Linked DNA regions of Homo sapiens. The protein of the gene in region 1 interacts with the protein of each later gene in a pairwise test. Each region holds a gene or a part of one and is shown in the gene's direction. Other genes may lie near its edges.

The links. Proteins that work in one complex are often made in the same cells at the same time.
Region 2: the proteins of NGDN (region 1) and AATF interact in binary tests that used the Homo sapiens proteins (3 or more experiments, as listed by UniProt).

Annotation. Positions count from the first base shown.
Region 1 is NC_000014.9:23,464,711-23,472,713, forward strand, and holds the start of NGDN (neuroguidin), read left to right. Parts: upstream 1-4,992; 5' UTR 4,993-5,005; coding exon 5,006-5,017; intron 5,018-5,331; coding exon 5,332-5,391; intron 5,392-6,195; coding exon 6,196-6,267; intron 6,268-8,003. UniProt on the Homo sapiens protein: Part of the small subunit (SSU) processome, first precursor of the small eukaryotic ribosomal subunit.
Region 2 is NC_000017.11:36,944,977-36,951,966, forward strand, and holds the start of AATF (protein AATF), read left to right. Parts: upstream 1-3,977; 5' UTR 3,978-4,149; coding exon 4,150-4,240; intron 4,241-5,237; coding exon 5,238-5,429; intron 5,430-6,990. UniProt on the Homo sapiens protein: Part of the small subunit (SSU) processome, first precursor of the small eukaryotic ribosomal subunit.

The DNA of each region.
Region 1 (8,003 bases):
TAAAAAGGAATAAAGTAGTGATATACACTACAATATGGATAAACCTTGACAACATTATGCTAAGTGAAAGCAGCCAGTCACAAAAGACTACACATTACATAATTCCACATTAAGGATATGTTCAGAATAGACAAAGCTACAGGGATACAAAGTTGATTAGTGGTTGTCTAGAGCTGAGGGTTAGAGGGTTGGGAAAAAAAGGGGAAGTGACTACTAATGGATACTGGGTTTTTTTTGGAACATTGTAAAAATGTTCTAAAATTGTTATGGTTATATTTGCACAACTCTGTGAATATACTAAAAGCCACTGAATTCTATGATTTTTTAAATCAAAACAATTTTTTTTTTTTTTTGTAGAGATGGGTTTCACTATGCTCCCCAGGCTGGTCTCAAACTCCAGGCCTCAAGTGATCCTCCTGCCTCAGCCTCCCAAAGTGCTGGGATTACAGGTGCAAGCCACCATGCCCAACCCCACTGAACTGTATCCTTTAAATAGTGAATTGTATGATATGTATATTAAATCTCAATATAGCTGTTAAAAACTTTTCTCAGTATATACTTGAAATATTATGGACGATTGCCAGTTTATGAAACTGTTGAAAGAAATAGAAGACAATAAATTTAATGATCTTGTATTCTTTGCCAATGCTTGTTGGTTGAGTGGTAGAAGAGCTTTACAAAGATTTATTGTACTGTTAGCTCCAAGATTCTCTTGTAACAAAAGGAATGATTGTGTCAGGGCTCAGAAAACGATACTCCAGAGTATGGCACTTTGGCATGCTAAGCACTTTGAACTAAAGGAGATTGGAAGGCCTTAGAAGCAGCCTCAGAAGCAAAGTCTTTCTCTGACCTTCTCCTGCCCTCTTGTCTGCTGCCCTTCCTTCTGCTGCAAGGCAAGCCATAGAAACTAGAATTCTGGCTGGGCGTGGTGGCTCACACCTGTAACCCCAGCACTTTGGAAGGCTGAGGTGGGCAGATCACTTGAGGCCAGGAGTTTGAGACCAGCCTGGCCAATGTGACGAAACCCCATCTCTACTAAAAATACAAGAATTAGCCGGGCATCGTGGCAGAGGCTGCAGTGGGCAGAGATCGTGCCATTGCACTCCAGTCACTCCAGCCTCAGCAACAGAGCGAGAATCTGTCTAAAAAACAAAAAACAAAGGCCGGGCGTGGTGGCTCATGCCTGTAATCCCAGTACTTTGGGAGGCCAAGGCCGGTGGATCACAAGGTCAAGAGTTCGAGACCAGCCTGGCCAATGTGGTGAAACCCCGACTCTACCAAAAATACAAAAAAAAATTAGCGAGGCGTGGTGGCGCATGCCTGTAATCCCAGCTACTCAGGAGGCCGAGGCAGAAGAATTGCTTGAACCCAGGAGGTGGAGGTTGCAGTGAGCTGAAATCGCGCCACTGACTCCAGCCTGGCAACAGAGCAAGACACCGTCTCAAAAAAAAAAAAAAAAAGAAAAAAAAAATTAGAATTCGTCTTCCCTAATGCAGGTTTTAAAAACTGGAACCCCAGGGCTGGGTGTGGTGGCTTATGCCTGTAATCCCAGCACTTTGGGAGGCCGAGGTGGGTGGATCACGAGGTCAGGAGTTCGAGACCAACCTGGCCAATACGGTGAAACCCTATCTCTACTAAAAATACAAAAATTAGCTGGGCGTGGTGGCATATGCCTGTAATCCCAGCTACTTGGGAGGCTGAGGCAGAAGAATCGCTTGAACCCAGGAGGCAGAGGTTACAGTGAGCTGAGATCGCGCCACTGCACTCCACCCTGGGTGACAGAGCGAGACTCCGTCTCAAAAAAAACAAAAACAAAAACAAAACAACAAAAAAACTGGAAGCTCTGTCCCCCAAACCAGCCATAAAACCTAAAAATTTTACTCTAAATTTCTCTCACCTTTCTGCTAGGAGCTAGCCGTAAAAAATATTCTCTGACTTCCTCATTTGATGGTCAGTCATAAATCCTCATTTTGGAGGGGTCCTCCCTGTAAACCAGAAAGTATCTGAAACAGGTCTCAATCAATTTAGCAGTTTATTTTGCCAAGATTAAGGACGTGTCTGGGAGTGAGGCTTGTGCCTTTCTCCAAAGATGACTTTCAGGGCTTCACTATTAAAAGGGGAAAAGTAGGCTGGAGGAGAAAGAGGGAGGGTACATTAATCCACATGTTGCAAGAGAAAAGGAGCAGGTAGGGGAATAGTCAATTGGTATTTGTCTCAGGCTCAGTAAATCGGCACACAAGATAAGGTGAACACACAGTAAATACTTGTAGAGATATTTAACATTTTATCTGTAGCTATCCGCTTAGGAACAATAGCAAAGGCAGTTGCTTGCATGACTCCGTTGAGCTTAATTTTTTTCTTTTGGCATAGTGAACTGGGGTCCCAAGTTATTTTCCTTTCGCATTCCCTATACCCCAAAGGATTGCTATCTAGAGAGGCTAAGAAAAATCTGAACAGACAGGCCTTGCTGGGATTCCCCCCTCAGTCTAGTTCTGTCAGATCATACTCTTTTTGTCCTATCACATTTCTACACGCTGTCCATTCTTCATCAAACCTAACCATAAAAATGGAATCTTCATTTCTGAAGGCTCCCGTGTCATGTAAAACTTTCAATAAATTCATCAAACTTTTTTCTTGTTAACTTCTTTTGTTATAGGAGTGTCTTCTATGACCCTTATGATGGGTGAGGAAAGGTATCACACTTTTCTGCCCCTATAGTTGACAAGTATTTTATTTTTTTAGAGATGGGGTCTCCCTCTTTCACCTTTTTTTTAGAGATAGGGTCTTGCTCCGTCACCCAGGCTGGAGTGCAGTGGCACGATCATGGCTCACTGCTGCCTTGACATGGGCTCAAGTGATTCTCCTGCCTCAGCCTCCAGAGTAGCTGGGACTACAGGTTCAAGTCACCGTTCCTGGTGGACAATTATTTTAATAATCAAGGCCGGGAGCAGTGGCTCATGCCTGTAATCCCAGCACTTTGGGAGGCCGAGGCAGGTGGATAGTGAGGTCAGGAGTTTGAGACCAGCCTGGCCAACCATGGTTTAGTAGAAACCCCGTCTCTACTAAAAATACAAAAAATGAGCTGGATATGGTGGCGGGTGCCTGTAATCCCAGCTACTCAGGAGGCTGAGGCAGGAGAATCGCTTGAACAGGGAGGCAGAGGTTGCAGTGAGCCAAGATCGCGGCACTGCACTCCAGCTTGGGCAACAGTATGAGACTCCGCTCAAAAAAAAAAAAAAAAAAAAAGGCCGGGCGCGGTGGCTTACGCCTGTAATCCCAGCACTTTGGGAGGCTGAGGCGGGTGGATCATGAGGTCAGGAGATCGAGACCATCCTAGCTAACATGGTGAAACCCTGTCTCTACTAAAAAAAAAAAAAAAAAAAAAAAAATCAGCCGGGCGTGGTGGCAAGTGCCTGTAGTCCCAGCTACTCGGGAGGGCGAGACAGGAGAATCGCTTGAACCCGGGAGGCGGAGGTTGCAGTGAGCCGAGATCGCGCCACTGCACTCCAGCTTGGGCAACAGAGCGAGACTCGGTCTCAAAAAAACCCAAAATATGGCAGTGCAATTTGTTTTCTCATTGCTATCATAAAGCATATGAACAAACTAAATTTCAAATTCCCCGAAAAGGAAAAGTTTATTGCTGATCTAATTAGACAGGTCCGAAAATTTATGTAGAAATAGAAACTTTTCATAATACAAATCTTGATAAAACATTACAAAAGCTACTGGATAATTGACTAAGTATGCTGCAACAGCATCCTGAGCTTCCACAGTGGGCCTGAAGCAGCAAATTAAATGTTAGAGGAGTGGGGACTGAACACCCTCCTGCCTTCTTGAATCCAGCAAGATCTAGATACCAGGATTTCCTTACCTCACCTGCCCAGATACAGGTGTTATTCTTAATTCCAAAAGACAGCTTCAAGTCGGTAAGATCTGATTTCTAGACCCAGCTCTGTTGGACGAGTTGTGAACAAAAAATTATACACTATCATTCACCCTTTCGGTGCTTTATTTCCTAAGGCATGGGATGGGAACAATGAGTATCCGTCCAACCTACTTCACCAGCTTGTGAAAAACCAGAGTGAGAGAACACATCTGAAAGCACTGGGTAATGATGAGGCAGGTTATACTGAAACATGCACTGCCAGAGTTTGAACCAAGTTCTGCTGAAGACCTGTGTGACCGCGGTAAGTCATGTAAATATGAACCGTTCCCCAATTTGTAAAACGTATTCTTTTCATGTCCCCAAACTGGTAGGAGCGAAGAGTGTCGGGGCGTTATTGGAGCCGTTTCTCAGCGCTCCACAGTGCACACCAAGAGGGCAGGTGTCCTCGCACTCGGTTTCTAAACTCTGGCTCTGGGCTTCTCTAGCCTCGCTCTCTTATTTACAGATGAAGAAGGCTCAGAGACCGAGTGACTTGTCCACGGTCACACAAGGAGTAGTGTTACAGAATCGATTCCAGGGCCACCGGGTCTGTAAGGCATTTGGCGCGGTGGCCGTTGGATGAGCAGCCAGCAATGGCGGCTCTGCAATGTCGACACCGCAAAGCCAAGCCAAGGCCCATCACCTAGCGGCCGGTTCACGCACTACAAGAAAAGTGCCGTGAAAAAAGACTCTGGGTGCTGCGGCAGACGGGAGCCAATACGCGCTAAGTTCGCTCTGCTAATTCCTTTTTTCTATTGGTCCTTCCAACTGTCAATCAATTATTTGACTGTCTCTTATTGGCTTGCCGTCAATCATTTTACTCAGTCTACCAATCACACGCTCTTTGCCAAGTGCTTTTTTTCGTCCTGACGACTCTTTCTGAGTCTGACGAATTTAGCCAGTTCCTTTATTCCATTGGCCAGATCAGACTCCTCCTCTCGTTTATCCTGTTGGGGGCGGAAGTGAGAAAGCCCTTATTCGTATTGGCTTAGATTTGCAAGCGGCAGTTGTCTATCAAATCTATCAAGTCGCCCTTAGCGCTCAGGAAGTACGACACCGGAAGGGGTGGGCTTTGCGAAGATGGCGGCGCTGGTGAGTTTGGTGTGGTTTCTTCCTCGCGTAGCTATTGTGGAGTTGTCCTTTGCCTTCAGCGGCTGGAGGCAAACTGTTGGTACCAGGGAAGGGTGGTGATGAAAGTTGCTTCAGGGAGGCGGCCTCCCTAGAGTTACCGTTCCTGTCCGGTAACCCAAGGGGCTGGCTTTAAGGCGAGTCTGTGAACCCGAGTGTGAAGGCCCCGAGTCTGGGTGTCTGACGGAGAGAGGGCAGTTTCCCACCCTAGACGTTCCACTTTCCTATAATCCTGAGGAAAGAATGACTTTTCTTTACGCCTCCTCTCCCTTCTGTAGGGGGTGCTGGAGTCCGACCTGCCAAGTGCCGTGACACTTCTGAAAAATCTCCAGGAGCAAGTGAGTAGTGTCGCCTCTGGAATAAATTAGTCACGGATTGGCTTTGAGTTTGTGTACTTCACCTCAAAACTTTGGTGATTGAGATACGTGAATGCTTCCAAAAACCTTAGAGTAAAATGATGTAATCAAAACCTTTTCACGCCAGAATTCTAAGTAATTGATTCTGCACCCAAGGGAATACAAGAAACTCCAAAAAGAAATTATATGAATAGTTTTCCTTTATTCATATAGCTAAGGAAACCAGTGCTTGGAATGGTAACATGACTTGCCCTTTGGGTGCCCAGGTAATACACACTTATATACAGATGCTTCTCGACTTAACGATGGAGGTTATGGCCTGATAAACCCATTGTAATTCGAAAACCTCATAAGTCGAAATTTAGGCTTGATGCCGCTGCCCAGCATCACGAGAAAAGGACGGTTTCTACCGAATGCATATTTCTTTTACACCCTCGTAAAGTGGAAATTAAGTCATAAGTCGGGGAGTTATGTAGTTCTATGCATTGTAAGTTCAACTAGTACAAACAAAATTACAGTGCTTCAGTCACTACTCTCTCAGTCCTTTTCTCCTCCCTGTGGTTCAGTAAAAGATGGTCTCTTCTTTAAGAAGTGGAAAGTTTTTTTTTTTTTAAACTTTTTGAAGAACCATCTCTCCTATGCTTTCCGAGAAGTGAGAAGATAGTACTATACTTTAGACAGTGTTTCAGATAATTTTTAGGTGGCATTGTTTAGCTTTTGCTCTTCACAGTTTGCAGACATAATTTGATATAATCTAATCACTTGTTTTATTTGGGCTAATTTCAGGTGATGGCTGTAACTGCACAAGTGAAATCACTGACACAAAAAGTTCAAGCTGGTGCCTATCCTACAGAAAAGGTAAGATGTACTCAAACAGTAAGCATCCCCTGACTTAATGTTCTCAGTAGTTCTTTCATTGTATGTTTATTGTGTCTTATATATCCTAAGTGCTCGAGCTTCAAACATAAATATGATCCAGTTTCTGTGCTGAAGTCTAGAGGGAAGACAAAGCAAAGCAATAGATGTAAGTATTAATAGTAGCAGTCACATTACAGAGTTATGAGTCTCCAGCCAAAGAGAGGGATTAATTAACTGCCAGAAGAGCAGAGGGATTCAGGACAGGCTTCCCAGAGGAGGTGATAGGATTTTGAGGAATAAATGGGAGGGACAGAAAGAAGGAACATGTGCAAAGGCACAAAGGCCTGAAAGTATGGTGATAAGGGAAAGGAGTAAGTCATTTTTGTGATAGGATGTACTTTCTGTGTTATGTGTGTTGGGGGTAGGAAATAAGACTGGAAAAGTCACTCTGAAGATTACTGTAGGCCAACTGAGGAGTTACTTTCAGATTTCATCTAATCTAAGACACTTATTAATTGGGACATATCACTTATTGTATATATTAAGAAAAAATGTGACAGGCCGGGCATGGTGGCTCATGCCTGTAATTCCAGCACTTCAGGAGGCTGAGGCTGGAGGATCGCTTGAGCTCAGGAGTTCGGGACCAACCTGGGTAACATAGTGAGACCCTACAAAAGTTAAAAATTAGCCGGGCATGATGGCATGTGCCTGTAGTCCTAGCCACTCAGGAGGCTGAGGCCAGAGGATTGCTTAAGCCTGGGAGGTTGAGGCTGCAGTAAGCTGTGATTGTGCCACTGCATTCAGCCTGGGTGACAGAGCAAGACCCTGTCTCAAAAAAAAAAAAAAAATTGCTTATGACATAATACCAAGATGCCAGTGACTGAAACATGCATCCTGATTTCAGAGATGTTAAAATATGAAAACCATGTGCATCTTAAAATTGAAATATGCGCCTGTAATCCCAACACTTTGGGAGGCCAGAGTGGGAGGATTGCTTGAGCCCATGGGTTTGAGACCAGCCTGGGCAATGTGGTGAGACCTATCTCTATAAAAAAAAATTAGCTGGGCGCAGTGGTGTGTGCCTGTAGTCCCAGCTACTCAGGAGGCTGAGGTGAATGGATCGGTTGAGCCCAGGAGGTCGAGGCTGCCATGAGCCACGGTCGCACCATCGCACTGCAGCCTGGGCAACAGAGTGAGACTGTCTTAAAAAAAAAAAAAAAAAAAAAAGGCCAGGCTAAGAAGAAAAGGTGGCTCACACCTATAATTCCAGCACTTTGGGAGATTGTGGCGGATGGATCACCTGAGGTCAGGAGTTCGAGACCAGCCTGGTCAACATGGCAAAACCCCATCTTTACTAAAAATACAAAAATTAGCCGGGCATGGTGGCGTGTGCCTGTCTGTAATCCCGGTTACTCGGGAGGCTGAGGCAGGAGAATTGTTTGAACTCAGGAGGCAGAGGTTGCAGTGAGCCGTGATCATGCCACTGTGCTGCAGCCTGGGCAGCAGAGCAAGACTCCATCTGAAAAAAACAAAACAACAACAATTAAAATATTGTAGTTTTCAAATGAAGGTCTGGTAGAACCTTCTCAGGGATTACTGGTTGGGGGCAATGTGGAAGAACAACTCTGGATCTCTCATCCCTACTTAACTGGAAAACTCTGGTATTATCTGTTTTTATATATTGAGCTTTTGTCCTAAGATATTTAGGCCAAATATTCTATGGGTAAATACAAGTA
Region 2 (6,990 bases), on another chromosome or scaffold:
GGCTTGTATCAGATACTTGTAATACATAGTTAGAGGTGGTCCTTTTCAGTTTCATTTCATTTCCTATAGATAATCCGGCTTTCTAATTTGGTAGTTTGAAAGATAATGTAAAGGCTTTCTAATTTGGTGGTTTGAAAGATAATGTAAAATGAATGTATAGTACAGCTAGAAATGAAATACTTTAATCCCTTTCACAGAACTGATATGAAATTGTTGTTTTATAGTATTTGTTACCTTTGAAGTTCCCCAGAAGGAAAACTATTTTGCCTGGCACAAGATACATATTAAGTTTCTCTGAAAGATGAACAAAAATAACTAATATCAAAATCAAATTTCAACTCAAAAGGTTCTAAAAGTAGCTCGATTCTTTCCAGTCCTTCATTAGACTTGGAAGAAATTTGAATATTTTATCTACTATGAAATATTCTTGTGGATGTGTGTGTGTTTCAGTATCAGATGCTATTAGAGTTCCAGGATTTCTTTTCCATATCACCTAGATTTCACTCTGGATTATTTATTTCCTTATTTAAAAAGTCAAAGGTTTGACATTAAATGGTATATAATTTCCAGTGCTGTTTTCAAATTTTGTTAAGACACAGCCAAGTTTATCTTTCCTGCAGAGAAGGCTTTAAAATAAGCAATATTTCACTGCATCCATATGATGGCTTATCTAATGGGGGAGGAGGCTATCCGGGAGGAATCTGGCAGTGTTCTTTCAGAAATAAAAATGTATGAAATACAGAGGAGACTTTTGAAACTCCCAGCCTCTGCATGCAGCACATTTCTTTATTTGCTTTATATGCAATCACTGGATCGGCTTGTTTTTACCTTTTTAGCATTTATACACATTAAATCCTAGCTAACTTATTCATTATAGCCTCTACTCCCTAGCCCCCTTTAAAGACATTCATTTAAATGAACTGCGCTCACTGGGAAGCTGCATTTTCCTATCAAGGCTGCTGAATTATTTAGCAGCTTTATTGTGCAATCGGGGTATTTGATAAGAAGCGTTTTCGAGTTGGGCACACGATGTGGATTCGATTCTTCTAACAACGTGGTTGTGGCGCAGTCTCTCCCCTCGTCGCGGGATTCAGAATCCTGGCGAAAACCCGAACAGGTGGCAACGCTCAGCAGTCAAATTTGGAGCCGAAGGCCCCAAGGAGGAGGCCTGGAAATGTCAGGGCCTGTTCTCCTTCCCATCAGTGCTGTGCCGCCCACCTCTGGCCCCGAGGTGCGGGGACGTGCGGCACCATACCTAGGCGGAGCTCCCGCAGGAGGCGCAGCAGGAGGGAAGCGCCACTGCAGTCCCCTCTCGCCTGGGAGGGCAGCCTGGTTTCTCCCTGTGGCCATCTTAAAGCCACCACCTCTGTGCCTCTCGCCACCTGCCTTCAGGGTTCCAGCAGCAGGGAGCCACCATCTGCTCTGGCGAGGGAGCTGAAGCTCACCCACCCAACTTCTCCGGGCTGGCTGCCGCTGGTAAGCTGCTCTAGGTGAGGCACTTGGGGAAGTATTACCTGTGGAGAGCCAGGATAGGCATTGCCAGGGCTGGCACCTGAGGGTGGACAGCATCTGAAGAGAGGCAAGTGGGAACTTGGTTTTCCCAAACTCTTGAAACTCCTTGTCAAGTGAGCAGACAGTTGTTTGGGACAATTGGAAAGTGTCACCCCTTGCCCATCCTCTGCTGTGCCTAATCGCCTGCCACTTTGCAGCCCTTGGAGGGCAGGGAGAGGGATTGTGGACTGGGCGCCCCTCCGCCTTCTCTGGAGAAGGCCATTCTGTTAGGGAACTGCTCACCCTTATTCTCCTCTCCCTGTTCCTCTCATCTGCTCTCATCTCTACATCAGTCAGAGGTTGAAACTCCTCGCCACAGTCCACTCTCCATCTCCATCCCTACCCCATCAATAAGCCCTTCCCCCACCATCTCAAGACACTGGAATGCAGGTAGGGAGAGGCCCCCAGAGGGAGTATTTGAGAATTTGCTCCCCTGTCCCTTGCCTCAACTACTCTCAGTTGCATCTTAATTCCTAGAATTACTTCCTCTTCCCTCCACTCCTGGAGTCCTCTTTCTACCTTCAGTATAAGGTCAGGCAAACATTTTGGGGGGCCCTGGGATGTGTGTGACAGTAGAACGGTCTTGATTCCTTGCTAAAATGGCTTCCCAAGTCAGTAGGGACCAGGACAGAGAAGGGAGAGTAAGTAAACAGGTCTATGGCATTTTCTGCTGAGTGTTTGCCCAGCACAGCCCCCAAATTGACCAGCAGTGTCCTGTTTGCATGACAGCTTAGAGGTGGTCTCTGCAGTGACTCACCTCCCTTTCTCTTTTCTTCCTTCTCTTTACCTCAAAGGCCAGGTTTCTAAGCATTGTAAGTACCCAACATAGCAAGGGGATAGGATTGCAGGAGGTAGTTTCTTAAATGTGGGGTGGGAGAAACATTTTTGTCCTTTGAAGCCCCATGGCACCTTGTCAAGGAGCAAGGAACACACTTTTGCTTGGGAGGCCCGGACACAGGCACAAGACTGCAATTATAGAGGATAAACGAAAAACTGTTCTCTTAGGCTAAGCTCTCTTATGGATGGTAAAAAGCCGTTTTCTTCTCCTGAGTGCCCTGCCTAGCCTGGCATTCTTTTCCTTCCATGTCTGAGGGGGTTTACCCTCAGACAGGTTCTCCTTCCCCTCTGCAGCCCTGGTTGTCTTCATTCTTCAAGGGCCACTTTACAGGGACATGGAACAGGCTCCACTAAAGTGGTGTCCTCTTATTGCTCTTGGCCCTGAGGACATATGAAGATTGTGAAAGTCAGAGATCCTCTCTTCCCTTGGTTTTCATGGGAGACAGTAGAGAGCTGAGGGTTCCCCAGTTGTTCAGCTGTGGGATCCAACTGGCCCGGGCTGTACCCAAGGGGCACTGCCACAGTGCACCACTAACATCTCTTTTCTGGATCCTTTTGAGGCAGATTCTGTTTAGAGGGGTCTAGGTCTCTACAGGCAACCTCCAACAGATACCATAAGAATAGACCACTTTGTAGTCACACTTATCATCCCTTATTGCAGTTTCTGTTTACATGTTTGTCTACCCTCCTAGGCTGATTACCGTGGGGGGGAGAATCCAACTTACTTATCTTGTATCTTATCTAGCAGTGCCTGCCACATAGTGGGCAGTCAGGGAATGCTTGATGAAGGAAAGAGGATGTAAAGCGATTGTGTCTTTCCGTGTGCGGGGTGCAATTACATTTATACTATTAAGTCTTTATATTTTGAGTCTGTCCCTCTAACGGTAGACCTGTATTTTTCTGCATTTGTGCACCTGCTTAAGCTGCCTGAGCATGCCCTCATCTCTGAACAGCAAAGATAATCAATACCGAGGGGTATGCAGTGGAGTAATCCACACCCCACCCCCTTTCCCTTGCTCAGGCAAGGGTACTTAGAGACGCTACTGAAACTATCTTTAGCCACAGCGATTCCTAAGTATTCCCATTAAGAAAGACGCCAGCAGTCCGCCACACACTTACACGTGCATATCCCTGACATAGGATTCCCAAATCCTGGCCGCTGAAGGGCGGGAGGCGTGTGCCCGGCCTCAGACTACTATAAATTGCGAAATGACAAACCTGCTTTGGGTCCCAGTCTCTGCGTGCCCGAGTGCGCACCCGCGATTCGAGCAGCTTAAGCCCTACTCCCTCCTCCTTCCCAAATCAGCCACCGTGGGCCACGGCTACGCTATGCTTTATTCCTAAGCGAATCTCGCACAAATCTCGAGGCATATTTTGTACAAGGGGACACTGGCCGCGCGCATCGCAATCGCATCTCAGCGACAGAAGCGGTCACGTGCCTTGGCGCGCTTCCGCACCGCCCCTTCCCGCGCACTCGCACGCGCACGCGCACACGCGCCCATACGGCTCCAATCCCTTCAACCTTCTGCGCGCTTCCGCCTTCATGCTAGCAACGCCCGCAGTGACGCGCAGGCCCCGCCCCCTCCCGCGCGCCTCCCGGAAGTGGCCGGTCCAGAGCTGTGGGGTGGCCTCCGCGCGGTCTCTGGCGGAGTCGGGGAATCGGATCAAGGCGAGAGGATCCGGCAGGGAAGGAGCTTCGGGGCCGGGGGTTGGGCCGCACATTTACGTGCGCGAAGCGGAGTGGACCGGGAGCTGGTGACGATGGCGGGGCCGCAGCCCCTGGCGCTGCAACTGGAACAGTTGTTGAACCCGCGACCAAGCGAGGCGGACCCTGAAGCGGACCCCGAGGAAGGTGAGGCCGGACTGGGGCAGGCCACGTGCGGAGCGGTGGGCCAGGCCCTGTGGGGCAAGGGGGCGGCGTGGGAGGGGCGTGCGCGAGGCCGCCGGGCCTGCGCTCCTTCGCTTGGCGCAGAGGAACGTCGCCTCCCGCGAGGGTGGTCCCGGCCTCGGGAGGAGGGCTTCGGCTTCTTTTCACACGCACTCGAAACTTGGTGCTCGGCTGGATGGGCGGAACAGATCGAGGGCTCAGGCCGAGAGGAGCTGGTCTTCAGGTTTACTTGCTCCAGGCCTGTTGGAGGGAGCCAGAGAGTCTGCTAGCAAGTTGGAAGTTAGCTTTGAGGATGCCCTTTCTGGTATTGCGTTAGAAAGGAGGAGAAGAAAGTCGCATGTTTTTAATTCAGGTTGCCCTTCAAAACTAAGTTGGAGACTGATGGAAGGATTTTCTGGTGCTGTTTAAGTCTCTTGAAGTCTCAAGACACTTGTTCAGTGGCTGACGACTGAGACTCCTGTTCTGTAAGCTGATGTTCAGAGTCTAGCTGGGAGTAATCCCGCTTTAGACTTGAGTCGGAAGTGTGAGAAAGGGATAATAAGGAGGGATAAATGCGAGTGCTGAACCGTATCTTAGGAAGATCAGTTGAAGAAACTCGGGACTGTTTAGCCAGAATAAGCAAAGAAAACTCCCCAAAGAATGGGACAGAGTGAGGGGAGAACGTGATGACTGATTTAAGATATTGGAGCGACTGTCACACATTGAAGAGGAATTCAACTAGTTTGATAGGATCCAAGTCATAGAAATAGATCCCACTAGTAGATGCCAGGAGTCAACTTTCTGTTTAGAAACAGCAGTAAGACAGTGTTCTACTTTGGGAGAGAGTGAATTTCCTATTCCTGGAAGTTGGTGGGGATTTCGTAAAGGACGTTCAACTATGAGATAAATGGGTCGACCAGGGTTCCCGTTAAAGTTTCTGCTAACCTGGAGATTCTGTTTACTTTTCCCTCTCCCCCGACAGCCACTGCTGCCAGGGTGATTGACAGGTTTGATGAAGGGGAAGATGGGGAAGGTGATTTCCTAGTAGTGGGTAGCATTAGAAAACTGGCATCAGCCTCCCTCTTGGACACGGACAAAAGGTATTGCGGCAAAACCACCTCTAGAAAAGCATGGAATGAAGACCATTGGGAGCAGACTCTGCCAGGATCGTCTGGTGAGTAGACATTTTTGAATGGAACTCTTCTCTTCCCTAATTTTTTCAGGGTTAAAATCCTCCGGTCATCCCCCATGATCTTTGCAAGAGTAGTCTGCGGATCTTTTTTTTGAGACAGAGTTTGGCTCTTGTTGCCCAGGCTGGAGTGTGATGGCGCCATCTCGGCTCACCGCAACCTCCACCTCTGGAGTTCAAGCGAGGCTCCTGCCTCAGCCTCCCGAGTAGCTGGGATTACAGGCATGCACCACCACGCCCGGCTAATTTTGTATTTTTAGTAGAGACGGGGTTTGTCCATGTTGGTCAGGCACCCCTATCTGTTATCTTAGGAGAGACCATTGATTTGGTATTAGAAAGGGTCTTAGAGGTTACTTCATTTCACTTCATAAGGAATCTAAAGCCCAGAGTGATTAAGTTGCTATACTCCTTATGTTCGGACTAATGGCTCACCCTACAGTGGAGTGACAGAGAAGGCAGTGCATTTTGGCTACTGGAGAGGGTTATGAGCTGAAAAACCACTGTGTCTGATGAACATGTTATCCTTGAATTGTGACCCCTGACCTTTGGTTTTCCAGGACTTGCATTGAAGCACTGTGTGATATTAGTTATTTGTGAAACTCATTTTTTGCCATTCTAAAAAATCACATAATCCTTCTCTTCCCTGCAAAAGAGTTAGGAGTCTGTGCGCTTATAGTTTTAAAGAATTGTAAATTTCTCAGAGTGGAAGAAGGGGCTAGATATGGTGATTATTGGGAGAATGTCATTTGTTTTCCTTTAGAAAGGTCAGGGGTGTCATGTTGAGAATCCACAGATAATATAAAAGGAACTATCATTTAGGTTATGATATCTATGATTTAGTCCTTGATGTAGTTCTGGGAGCTCCTGATAAGCTCATTTCATATTCTTTGCCTAGAGACTGATAAAGGGACCAATCATGAGACAAATATGATAATATTTATTGAGTTCTTACCATGCGTCAGGCACTGAGTTTAGCTCTATAATTTAAGTTCTAAGAGCCTGGGACACAGTAAGTCCTCAAAAAAAAAATTATAAAATTACCTGGAATTAGACAGATTTTTATAAAAAATTATCACCATTATCACTACATGTGTCACCTAATTTAATCCTCCCAATTGCGCAGGAAGTTATTACTACTTAGCCCCATTTTACAGATAAGGAAATCGAGGGGCAAATTGGTTACATAAGTTTGCTCAAGGTCATATAGTTAGTAAGTGGAAGAAACATGATTCAAATGTAGGCTGTCTGACTCCAAGATGTACACTCTAGTAAACTCTGTATGAATGTTTCTTAATCTGAGAAATGGCGTACATTCAAAGAATTTAAATAATAATTTCTGTTTACTGTTTTGGCACTTAGTTTTTGTATTTATATTTTTGGCAGCTTTGTGTCTTAAGTTTATATATACCTTTTTAAAGAAGCGCTGAAGACCTGTCACGCTTTCCTAAAATCTTTATTTTATTGAAGAAAGTTTTTGGAAACTGGTCCCTCTATCTTAGAATCATACTTGAAACACATGGGGCTTTTATGTTCTACCATGGAACAG